3 linked regions of the Homo sapiens genome follow. The protein of the gene in region 1 purifies or fractionates together with the protein of each later gene. This does not show direct contact. Each region holds a gene or a part of one and is shown in the gene's direction. Other genes may lie near its edges.

Region 1 (3,751 bases):
AGCGATTCTTCTGCCTCGGCCTCCTGAGTAGCTGGGATTACAGGTACACACCACCACGCCCGGCTAGTTTTTGTATTTTTTAGTGGAGACGGGGTTTCGCCATGTTGGCCAGGCTGGTCCCGAACTTCCGGCCTCAAGTGATCTGCCCACCTCGGCCTCCCAAAGTGCTGGGATTACAGGCATGAGCCACTGCGCCTGGCTAATAGATGTTTTTTTTGTTGTTGTTTGTTTGTTTGTTTGTTTGTTTTGAGACAGAGTCTTGCTCTGTCACCCAGGCTGGAGTGCAGTCGCATGATCTCAGCTTACTGCAAGCTCTGCCTCCCGGGTTCACGCCATTCTCCTGCCTCAGCCTCCCGAGTAGCTGGGACTACAGGCGCCCGCCACTGCGCCCGGCTAATTTTTTGTATTTTTAGTAGAGACGGGGTTTCACCGTGGTCTCGATCTCCTGACCTCGTGATCCGCCCGCCTCGACCTCCCAAAGTGCTGGGATTACAGGCGTGAGCCACCGCGCCCGGCCTAATAGATGTATTTTTGAAGTTTCGTGGTGGTAGACGTTTTAAGTAGTGATGTTTGTAATAACTGTCATTTATGAGCATTTGTTTATATATGCCAGGCACTGTTCTAACCACTCTGAGTAATACCACTTATTTCTCACAACAACCCTGTAGTATAGATACTGTTCTCCTTATTTTAATGAGAGAGGAGCCAGGACATACATGGATAAAGCGACATGATTAAAGTCAGAGGTGGACATAGTGAAGCTGGAATTTAAACTGAGGGTGTCTGCCCTAGACCCCATGCTCTTAATTGCCGTGCTATAGATACTGTCTTGGAGATGGCATGTATGAACAAGCCCACACAATTTTCTTTTCCTTTCTTTTTTCTTTTCTTTTCTTTTCTTTTCTCAATGTTTTCTTAGAACATTGAGTACTAAGGCTAAGAAATAAACTTTAGTAAATGCTTTGAATTCACATTTAACTATTTTATGTTCTTATAAATGTGTCTCTTTCTTTTTCAGTCAATGTTACACATTAACCAAGCATTAATGAATTAGGTAGTCCTTGTACTTAGGTCTTAGAAATACTATAATTGTATTCCATTTTTTTAATAATACAGCTATTTTGATTTCACTTTTAGAAATTATTCTGAAGGCATCTTATAACCTTTTCCCCCTTAACCATACTTTCTCCTTTTTTAAAAAGTAAATGATCCTTTAAAGAGTTAAGAATTTAAAAGTAAATGTTTTATCTGAAACTGGTCACTCTAGCTCATTAGTCTACTTGTTTTCCCCTAAATATAAACATTTAAAATAAATCAAAACTTTCTGTATATCTCCTTCTGTGCTAAGCAATTTTGAGTCTAAAAAGGGGTAAAAGTTTTGAAAAAAGACGTTATTTGTCTAGTTGGTGAGATAAGATAGCACATAAGGCAACTGGTTAAAAAAAGGTAATTGGAAAATATGTAAACAATATGTGCTAGTAGAATGTTACAAAATGTTTATTAAAATATAATGACGTTATTATAAAATGCTTAAATCATAGTATTGACAAGTACAAACTTGTCGGGGAGTATTTAGATCAATGTGGATTGAATCATCAGGGCAGTTTTCATGGAGGAGCTGGAACTTGAATTTATTATTAAAGATCAGGTGAGACAGTTGGCAAAGAGGAAGAAGAGGAGATTCATGTAAGAAAATAAATGCCTTTTTTATATCTTAGAAAGTTGGAATTTTTCCCCCCAAATAACCCTGAAGTTTTCTTGTTTAATCTCATGATAGTGGTAATCTTTAAAAATAGCAAACCTATCAAAAGCACTAACCCATGTGCTGAGCACTTTTTTTGGCTCCCTATTATAAAACGTATGATCTCATTGGAACCTCACAGCATCCCATGAGGTTGTCACTCTTTTCCCTATTTTACGAATGTAGAAACTGGGGCTCAGGGAGGTTAAATAATGTGTCCAAAGTATCATAGCTAATAAGTAACAGAGCCAGTAGTTAAATTGAGGATTAACTCCAGAGACCATGCTTTTAACCATGTGATACATCCTGCCTCCTAATCTCACTTTGCTCTAACCTAACACAATTTCTAAAATGCATTTCTTCAGTTTCATCATGCATGCTGGTTGCTTTGTTATTGTTTCTTCTAAATGTTAATATTTCCTCTATGATATAAAAATTGAATACCTGAACTTGTTGGAAGTAGAAAGAACTCTGGAGCTAAACTTGCAAGTTCCAATCTTGGCTCTGCCCCTTGCCCCCTTGCTAGCATGTACAGATTGTCTAACTTTCTGTGTCTTAATTTTTTCCTCTATAAAATCTCCTTCAAATATAAACAATTTGCAGGTACAAGACTCGGAGCATATGTTTAAGGCAATCTTAAGGAAAATGTTAGAGGATAAACTCTGGAGCTGAGTAAGGAAACTGGCAAAAATACTCTTGGAGAGCATTGAGTATGCATTTTAACTGCAGGACTGAGACTGGAACAAAAGTGAGAATGAGGAAGAAAGAATAAAATGTAAATGTTAAATGTCCAATAATGTAAGGGATTGATTATACAACTAATAAAAAGAGAAGAGGAAAGAAATTGGAGGTAGAATAAGTTTGTGAATTGCCACATCTGTAATGGCTATGAGTCAAAGGACATCATTTAAAGCTGACAGATCAGTTAGTAGAAGTATAAGGAGTTCAAAGGTAAACACTGAGAAAGATAATACTATTGACTATAACCATGTTGTGTGGATGGGCAGTAAGATTATACAAGCTAATTTCATAAGTGCTCATAGTAGGGAGTTAATAGTTTCTGTGTAAAGAAATAGAGGATTAATGGTATTAAGTAAAATATTTAAAATTACAGTTAAAAAGATAGAATCAGAAACACATATTATAATGAAAATATACATCATCCTAATTATCAGAAAAATGGTAATTGCACAAAAAAGAAAACAGACAATGAAAGACTTTTTAAAAATTATTACCCAAAGATATTAAACCAAAGTAAAATATGGTAAAACTAAGACCAACCATGTCTGTCATGTCAATACATTTTAAATGTCCTTAGCTAACCTACTGTGAAAAGATTTTCAAATTGGATCACCAGTAAAATCTGTTGGTTTTTTGTTTGTTATTTTGTTTGTAATGATGACAAAGTAGTTCTGAAGGGCAAAAGTATACATGTAAAGGCAAACAAGAGGTGGAATTCAGACCAAAAGTCATTATTTGAGACAAAGAAGGATATTCATAAAGCTAAAGTGTATATTTGACAGTGAATTTGAACATTATGGATATGCACCAAATAACTATTAAATAACAAAGTAATTTTCATAAAGCAAAAGTTTCAGGAGATACCATGAGAAATTGACATAAATATATTAGCAGTAAGAGACTTAATTCACTGTTTCGGTCCAAGGCAGATCAAGTGGACAAAAAAGTAAGGATATAGGAGATCTAAACAAATCAATAAAGAGGACTTAGTTAATATATATTGAGCTCTAGGCCCTGAAAACAGAGAGCACCCCTTCTTTCTAGGTCCCAAGAACAATTCACAAAAATTCACTATATAGGCTCTATTGAAAGGAAAGGAGGAATTATAGGCATAGGGGATTTTAGGACAAGGGAACTACTCTGTGTGATACTATAATGACAGATACATGTTGTTATACATTTGTCAAAACCCATAGAATATACAACACCTAGAGTGAGCCCTCATATAAATTGTGGAGTTTCAGTGATAATGATGTGTTCATGTTAGTT
Region 2 (3,751 bases), on another chromosome or scaffold:
TTTTGTTAGGTTTAAAAATTCTTCTTAAAATTGCTTTGGGGTCTAGTTATTACACTAAGTAATTGTCCAGATATACATGTAGGATAATCTACTAACATCAGTTTGGGTGTGAAGCATATTCAGAATTCTTTTGGACAAGCATGACAGTCTTAACTTTGCCGTCCCCTCCAGGTTCCTTCTTCAGTGCAGTCACCGGCACAGCAGCAGGTACCTGCCAGACCTGGGGCTCCCTCTGTTCAAGTGCCATCTCCTTTTCTACTTCAAAACCAATATGAGCCTGTTCAGCCCCACTGGTTTTACTGCAAGGAGGTAGAATACAAACAACTGTGGATGCCTTTTAGTGTGTTCGACTCTTTGAATCTTGAAGAAATCTATAATTCAGGTAAACATTGGTCATACATCATTCATATCTGATTTTAGGAAGAGAAGGAATGAGATCATTTATTCATGATCTATTTTCTGTGAATGTCAAATACCTTAATCCTTATAGACCCCAGACTCTGTACCTTAAGGTGACGATATTAGTATAAGTCCTGAGTTACCTGGGTAAGGTATTTGAAGAAATGTTTTAGTAATTTACTTCGTAGTTTAAAGGTATTTTGAATCAGAGAAGTTGAGCAGTTCATATAATCCAGGTTTCAATTTTTCTGTTTCCCTTGTTCATTTGTAGTTATGGGGGCATTTATAAAGGGCATTCTGTGGAACTCTCTATCCTGGAGATGCTCTGTGAAAAAAGGGTTCCCTGGTCAGATGAGTTTTGGAAATGCTGCTCTCTGTATCTAGGTCTTGAGAGAGATGGTGTGCAGGAGTACATTAATGCTTTGAGAAGTCCTGCAGTGTAGAAATGTGTTTCTTTGTTTATCCTGATATATTATTATATCACTGTATTATTGTATGTAGATATTATTGTTCTGATAAAAAAAATCCATCAGTTCTTTGAATTATGTTTTTAAAGTTTGCCCTAGCTGTTTCTTTTCTACTTAAGAGTCATAATTTTGAGCAGCACAGATTAATCTTAAACTTCTATTTTGAAATAAAAATGAGCCTAGTTTTTTGTCTTTAAAGATTGAGTAGTCACCGTATTCATTATTTATTATTTCATTTTTATTTTCTTGAGACAGAGTCTCACTCTGCTGCCCAGGCTGGAGAGCAGTAGCGCAATCTGGACTCACTGCAACCTCTGCTTCTTGGGTTCAAACTACTATGCCTCAGCCTCCCAAGTAGCTGGGATTATAGGCGTGTGCCACCACGCCTGGCTAATTGTTGTATTTTTAGTAGACAGGGAGGTTTCACCATTGGCCAGGCTGGTCTCAAACTCCTGACCGCAAGTGATCCACCTCTCTCGGCCTCCCAGGGTGCTGGGATTACAGGCATGAGCCACTGCGCCCAGCAGATTATTTATTATTTTACAATATGCCTTGCAGCAGTTAGGAAAAGTGTTAATTTTGTTCTCTAGTTCAGCCAGATCCGGAGAGCGTGGTTCTTGGCACGGATGGAGGGCGCTACGATGTTTACCTCTATGACCGAATAAGGAAGGCTGCCTACTGGGAAGAGGAGCCAGCCGAAGTGAGACGCTGTACTTGGTTTTACAAGGGGGACACAGATAGTCGATTTATTCCCTATACTGAGGAGTTCAGTGAAAAACTAGAGGTACGGGTGCTTTATTTCTTTATGAGTTTCTTTAAAAAATGTAGGTCCTATATACATTGGTGAGTAACATCATTCACAGTGGAGCGGACTTTACTTACAAGACAGCTTGTTTTGATGCTGTTCACAGAGAAGATTACTTTTTAAGTGGTGTCATCACTCATGAGGTGCTAATCGTGGCATCTGTGTCTAAAGATAGAATATGATTTGCAGAGACACATCACAGATCTAATAAGGTGCTTGTGTCAAGCCTTCAATAGAACCTAGGCCGCTGGGATTTGTTGTTGATAGAAGATGCCAAGCATATGGACATTTTCAAATTAGTATTCAGTAAAAGGCTTGAAATTAACCTCTGATTTGTGAAAATAAATAAATAGAATTGGAAGAAGTGTCTTGAGTCTTATTAGCCATCTTAAATCTATAATTTCTTCAAGAAATTATATGTTGTTTTATATAATTGTGTTAAATGCTTGTGTTAATTCTACTTAAGAGTTGAATGTTAGATATTTGAAATACGTTCAGTGAATTCAGTTGCATAGATAGGAAATGAGATACAGAACATTTTAGTTAACTTCTGGCTGGGTGTGGTGGCTCGTGCCTATAATCCCAGCACTATGGGAGGCCTAGGTGAGCAGATCACTTGAGGCCAGGAGTTTTGAGACCAGCCTGACCAACATGGCGAAACCATGTCTCTACTAAAAATACAAAAACTAGCCAGGCGTGGTGGCACACGCTAGTAGTCCGAGCTACTCGGGAGGCTGAAGAGGAAGGATCACCTGTGCCAGGGAAGTTGAGGCTGCAGGGAGCTGAGATCATGCCACTGCACTCCAGCCTGGGCAATGGGAATGAGACCCTTCCTCAGAAAAAAAAAAAGTATATATTTGTATATGTGCATATATGTGTGTGTGTATATATATAAAGAAAAAAGTGTAAAGGAATGCTGATATCTATAGCTTAATTTTAGATATAAATAAACAAATAAAGATATATTGTAATTTTTGGTACCTTTTTGGTAGGCCCCTACGAAGCTATCATGTCCCCAGATTAAATGTTTAGTTTTACTATTTTGAAGCTGAAGTATATATTTTCAAGTCCAAGCAGTGTCTGAAAGTCTACACTTTCTCTTAACTATATTTGATTTTATATGGGTGACATAGACTTTGAAGCGGGATAGATATCCACATACTGACCACTGCAGCAACACATGGCTACCTAGGGAGACCTTAGCTTTTGTTCGGCTTCTTCCAGGAAACTCAAACCAGATCAGGGAAGAGGCAGAGGAGGTTAGGAAGTGAGAAAGCCGATAATAGAAAGGGAACAAAATGATACGTATTGCTCAGCATCCTGTTGGTGATCCTCTTCTGTCAGAGCACTAAGACAAAACAACGGAAGGGTTGGAGACAGAGAACACCTTTAATTTGATGAAGACATGATTATTGTCTACGTGGAAAATCAGGAGAACCTCTAGAAATATTAGCACCAATACAAGAGTTTTTTTGCAAGTCCGTGTATATAAAATTAACATACGTAAATTAGTAACATTCCTGTGCCATAGAAATAACCAATTAAAAATAGAAAAAGAAGATACTATGTATTTATAACAGAGAGACTATATATTTATAAAACTACAGGCAATGTAGGAAAAAAGCCCAAGAAAAGTACCGGTAAACTTTATGGAACACTGAAGAACGTAAAAGGTGACCTCAAGAAATGGAGCTAGGCTGGGCGTGGTGGCTCCTGCCTGTAATCCCAGCACTCTGGGAGGCCAAGGTGGGTGGGTTGCTTCAGCTCAGGAGTTCCAGACCAGCCTGGACAACATGGAAAAACCCCGTCTCTACAAAAAATACACACAAAAAAATTAGCTGGGCATGGTGGCCCATGCCTGTGGTCTTAGCTACTCAGGAGGCAGAGGCAGTAGGATTGCTTGAGCCTGGGATCTTGAGGCTGCAGTGAACTGTGATCGTGTCACAGCACTTTAGCCTGGGCAACAGAGCAAGACCTTGTCTCAGAAAAAAAAAAAAAAAAAAGAAACGGAGCTAAACATTATGTTCATGTAGGCACTATCATAAAAGATGTCAATTCTTCCCAAATTATCAGATAAATT
Region 3 (3,751 bases), about 80 Mb from region 1:
TAAGCAGGATTTTTATAAGCAAACTTACAGAAGCAAAACAAAGGCAGTTAATCATATAATGACAGGTCACATAATCTATAGCATAACTGATGACTTGGCATAACTTGTGGCCTTGCATAGCTGGTGGCCTTGTAGCTGCGTTGAAAGAAAAAACCAAGAACTGGCTAAACACAGATATTTGTCCTCTTTTTTTTTTTTCTTCACCCCTGCTCTGGAAGGGGGGTGTCTGGAGCCTATTCCTTTGGATTCGACTTCTCAAACAGAACAGCGTTATCTTATAACTGTCCTTAAAGTGAGCTTGCTAAGCAAAAGAAAACTTGTTCTTCTTTTCTTTTTAACCCTTGCCTTGCCACATTCTGGGCCTTGGCTTTTTCTTTTCTTGGAGTGAATGAATGCAGTACTTATTACTATTTTTAAATTTCTGCCTCACTTTAATAATGATAAAAGGCTGAATTTTTGCCAACTTGTCCATCTGTGACCACGTCGTGCTAAAGCACACTTGACACACCATAGAGCCTCAGATCAAACCTCAAAACCAAGCAGCTATGTTAAAAATAACATTGCCCTACAATCATTATCGGAAGGTTCTCGCCCAGAGTAGTTCCCAGGCTGCTATTCTTTGTCCCCCTTAAGACCATAAAGACGCCGTTCTTTTTTGGTGGGACAGGTTGTCCAACACAAGCAGGACACTGCCTGCCGCATCCTGAAGCAACACTGTCACCGAGGTCACACCGAGAGGACAGGACAAGGACACAGGGCAAGACTAAGAAGAGCAAAGCGCAGACTTCTCTCATCTGGGCCAGGAGATGGGGACTGGGACCTGGCCCGGGCAGCCTGACCACACTGCACAGACCCCGGCTCCGGCTCCGTGCAGATCTGGGTTCCCCCAGTGGGAGGTGTCGGGGCTCTCCAGGGAAATCGGGGTTCTCCGGGGATGTCGGGTTCCTTCAGGGGGGCCAGGGTTCCCCGGGATTCGGGGTTCTCTGGGGGGGGGGTCGGGGGCGCCTGCCGCGCACCCACCTTGACGCGCTTTCAGCAGCAGCGAGTTGGCCACGATGTTCTCGAGCTCCATGTCCTGGCGCCGCCGCCGCCGGCGGATTCTGCGAGACCGAGGAGACTGAGGAGGCGGAACAGGAGGAGACGCCGCCGCCCCCGTGCATAGCTCGCCGGGCACCACCCTCTCCTCGAGCTCCGGACACGATCCCGGGAGGCTGCTCCGCCGCCACCACTGCCACCAAGGGCGCCGCCGCCGCCGCCTCCGCAGGCCCTCACCAGCAGGGGAGCGGTCGGGGCGAGGGGAGGGGGCAGCCCGACCGCGGCGGGTCCCAGCTGTCACCGCTGCCGCGCTATCGCCCCGGTTCTTCTTGGCCCCATCGCCCTCGCCTCGCGCGCGCAACTCCCTCCTCAGTGCCCTGCCCCCGGGCAGCCCCGAGTCAATGCCGTGGCTCACTTCGGACAGGGGCTCACTGGCAGGGGCGCCCGCCGCGGCCGGCGACCCGCTCCCGGGCGGGCTCGGCGCTAACGGCTTAGCTGAAGAGGGAGCGCCCCTCGCCGCCGCGGCCGGGGCACTACAGCTCCCAGAAGGCCCTGCGCCAAGAGTACACGGCGGGCCGCGGCGCGTGGCCTGCTGGGAGTTGTAGTCGCTGAGCCTATCGGCGAGTAAGCCGAGCCTGCGGGCGCGGTGTTTACTTCTCGCGAGTCGGAGGTGCTGCGCTGTTCTCGCGAGACGAGGAAGCGGTTCCGCGGCCCGGCACGTGTCTTAGGGTAGCGCGCGCCTGTCTCTCTTCGGGTCTCGGGCCCTTGGGCGCAGCGGGGCGCGCGCCATGGCGAAGGCGAAGAAGGTCGGGGCGCGAAGGAAGGCCTCCGGGGCGCCGGCGGGAGCGCGAGGGGGCCCGGCGAAGGCCAACTCCAATCCGTTCGAGGTGAAAGTTAACAGGCAGAAGTTCCAGATCCTGGGCCGGAAGACGCGCCACGACGTGGGACTGCCCGGGGTGTCTCGCGCACGGGCCCTCAGGAAGGTAAGCGGGGGGCGCACGGGGAGCCGGAAGGCAGGATCTGGACCCCACGCTGCTCTCGGCCGGCTGCGTCCTTCTCGGTGCGTCGGTTTCCTCGTTGAGCGGCACAGGCCGTGACAGGCACACGGCACTGACTTGATAGTCCGAAAGCCTCTGCTGTTCTCTGAGCTGGAGTGACCTGGAAACTCTCGCCGTCTTGGAGACCCTGCACTCGTGTTATTTCGGCGACTCCTCCAACCGGGTCAGGCCGAGTCAGTCACTTCGGGCGGCGCCCTGGACCAAGCTGCTTGTTAACCCTTCCGCGTTTACTTTGAGCTCTGCAGGTTTGGGGACGGTGGATAGGGGCTGTGTAGGATGCTGCGTTTGATGTTTCATCGGCTCTCTCCCGAAGCGCGTAACCTTGTTCCTTGGGAAGTAACTCTATGGAAACTCATTGCTTCCTAGTTTTTTTAACTTTTTTTTTTTTAAATTTTCACTGAGGAACATACATTAGCAGGTTGGTGAAAAAATTAAGGCACAGAAAGGACAAGTGCATTTCCTAAGGTCACGCACCTGGTAAGGGCTGGGCATGCATTCACATTTCAATATCTACAAAGCCTTCTTGCTACCCCGAGCGCTTCTGTTTGACCTCGCTTCTAGGTTCGGGGAGATAAAGGTAAATAAGACTTGCCCTTGCCTTCATGAGCTCCTGATCTCTGTTCATCACAGTGTGCAAGCTGGATGGTCTTTGAATCAAAACACATATTATCCTTACTGCGCGAAGACGACAGCCTGTATAATGAATAGGCAAGATAGACTTACAGCTGACTTCGATAGGAGTCCCTCATTACACACCCCCGGGCCGGGGTGGGAGAATAAGGTAGTGTGGTTCCCTAGAAGAGACACATTTGTCTTCACCACTGAAGCCTCAGTTTTCTCATTTCAAAAGTAGAGATGATAGTATACATCCTACCCCTCGTGGTGGTTTGTGAGAATTAAGTAAGATAGCACATAGAGCACACAGCAAGTGTTCTCTAAATACTGTTATTCTTAACCTTCTTGGCTTGTCGTTCGAGTCCCGCACAGTCTGGCTGTTGTCCTTGCTTCGCCTCTTGCAACTCAGTTTGTCCAAAAGGTCTGCCTTACCTCCGAAAGTCTCTAAAGGGCCAGCTCAGGTTCACCACCCAAGCTATGTAACCCAAATAGGACAGGTTGCTCAAACTTCTGGTATTGAGCAGATCCACCTCCCTGCCCTGTGCTGAAGGCCTGGGACGGGGACGGGAATTGCTGCTCCTTTTTGGATCTCCAATGCTTGGCCCTTGGAAGAAACACAAATATTTGAAGAAATCAAAGATGGAACCTGAGTGCCTTAGGAGATCCCGGTCAGGAAAAAGTGTAATAGTTAGGAAAGTCCAAAAATTCTTCTAGAGGGAGTTACAGTCAAGTTTTGCAAGGGGAGTGAGCTGTTCATGGGCCCAGGGTGGGCAGAGGACACACATGCAAAGGCACATTGTCCCGGTATGGTGAAGTGTGGCACTCACAGCTGTCTGAGGGACAGCAGGTCGTCCAGTTGACTCCAAGCTTGATAACGCGTGTAGGGGCCGTGAGGCCGGCGCAGGAGGCCTGGGTCTTTTCATGTGGGTTAGTCCCTTAGAAGTAAACAGGCTGCCTCAGTTGGCTTCTCCCCTCTGGTCAGTTGTAGCACTCTGAGGCACTCAGTCTGGCAGGAAGAGGGCAGCCCCCAGGTGCCAGTCTCA

Evidence for each region.
Region 2: the proteins of SEC31A (region 1) and SEC23IP purify together in Homo sapiens (affinity purification with mass spectrometry; 3 studies listed by BioGRID and IntAct, with this or other methods). This does not show direct contact.
Region 3: the proteins of SEC31A (region 1) and NOP14 purify together in Homo sapiens (affinity purification with mass spectrometry; 3 studies listed by BioGRID and IntAct, with this or other methods). This does not show direct contact.

The regions. Positions count from the first base shown.
Region 1 is NC_000004.12:82,884,543-82,888,293, reverse strand, and holds part of SEC31A (protein transport protein Sec31A), read left to right. Parts: intron 1-3,751. UniProt on the Homo sapiens protein: Component of the coat protein complex II (COPII) which promotes the formation of transport vesicles from the endoplasmic reticulum (ER).
Region 2 is NC_000010.11:119,902,628-119,906,378, forward strand, and holds part of SEC23IP (SEC23-interacting protein), read left to right. Parts: intron 1-171; coding exon 172-382; intron 383-1,456; coding exon 1,457-1,650; intron 1,651-3,751. UniProt on the Homo sapiens protein: Plays a role in the organization of endoplasmic reticulum exit sites. Specifically binds to phosphatidylinositol 3-phosphate (PI(3)P), phosphatidylinositol 4-phosphate (PI(4)P) and phosphatidylinositol 5-phosphate (PI(5)P).
Region 3 is NC_000004.12:2,961,392-2,965,142, reverse strand, and holds the start of NOP14 (nucleolar protein 14), read left to right. Parts: upstream 1-1,736; 5' UTR 1,737-1,823; coding exon 1,824-2,018; intron 2,019-3,751. Other genes in the region: GRK4 (G protein-coupled receptor kinase 4), read right to left, coding at 1,021-1,072. UniProt on the Homo sapiens protein: Involved in nucleolar processing of pre-18S ribosomal RNA. Has a role in the nuclear export of 40S pre-ribosomal subunit to the cytoplasm.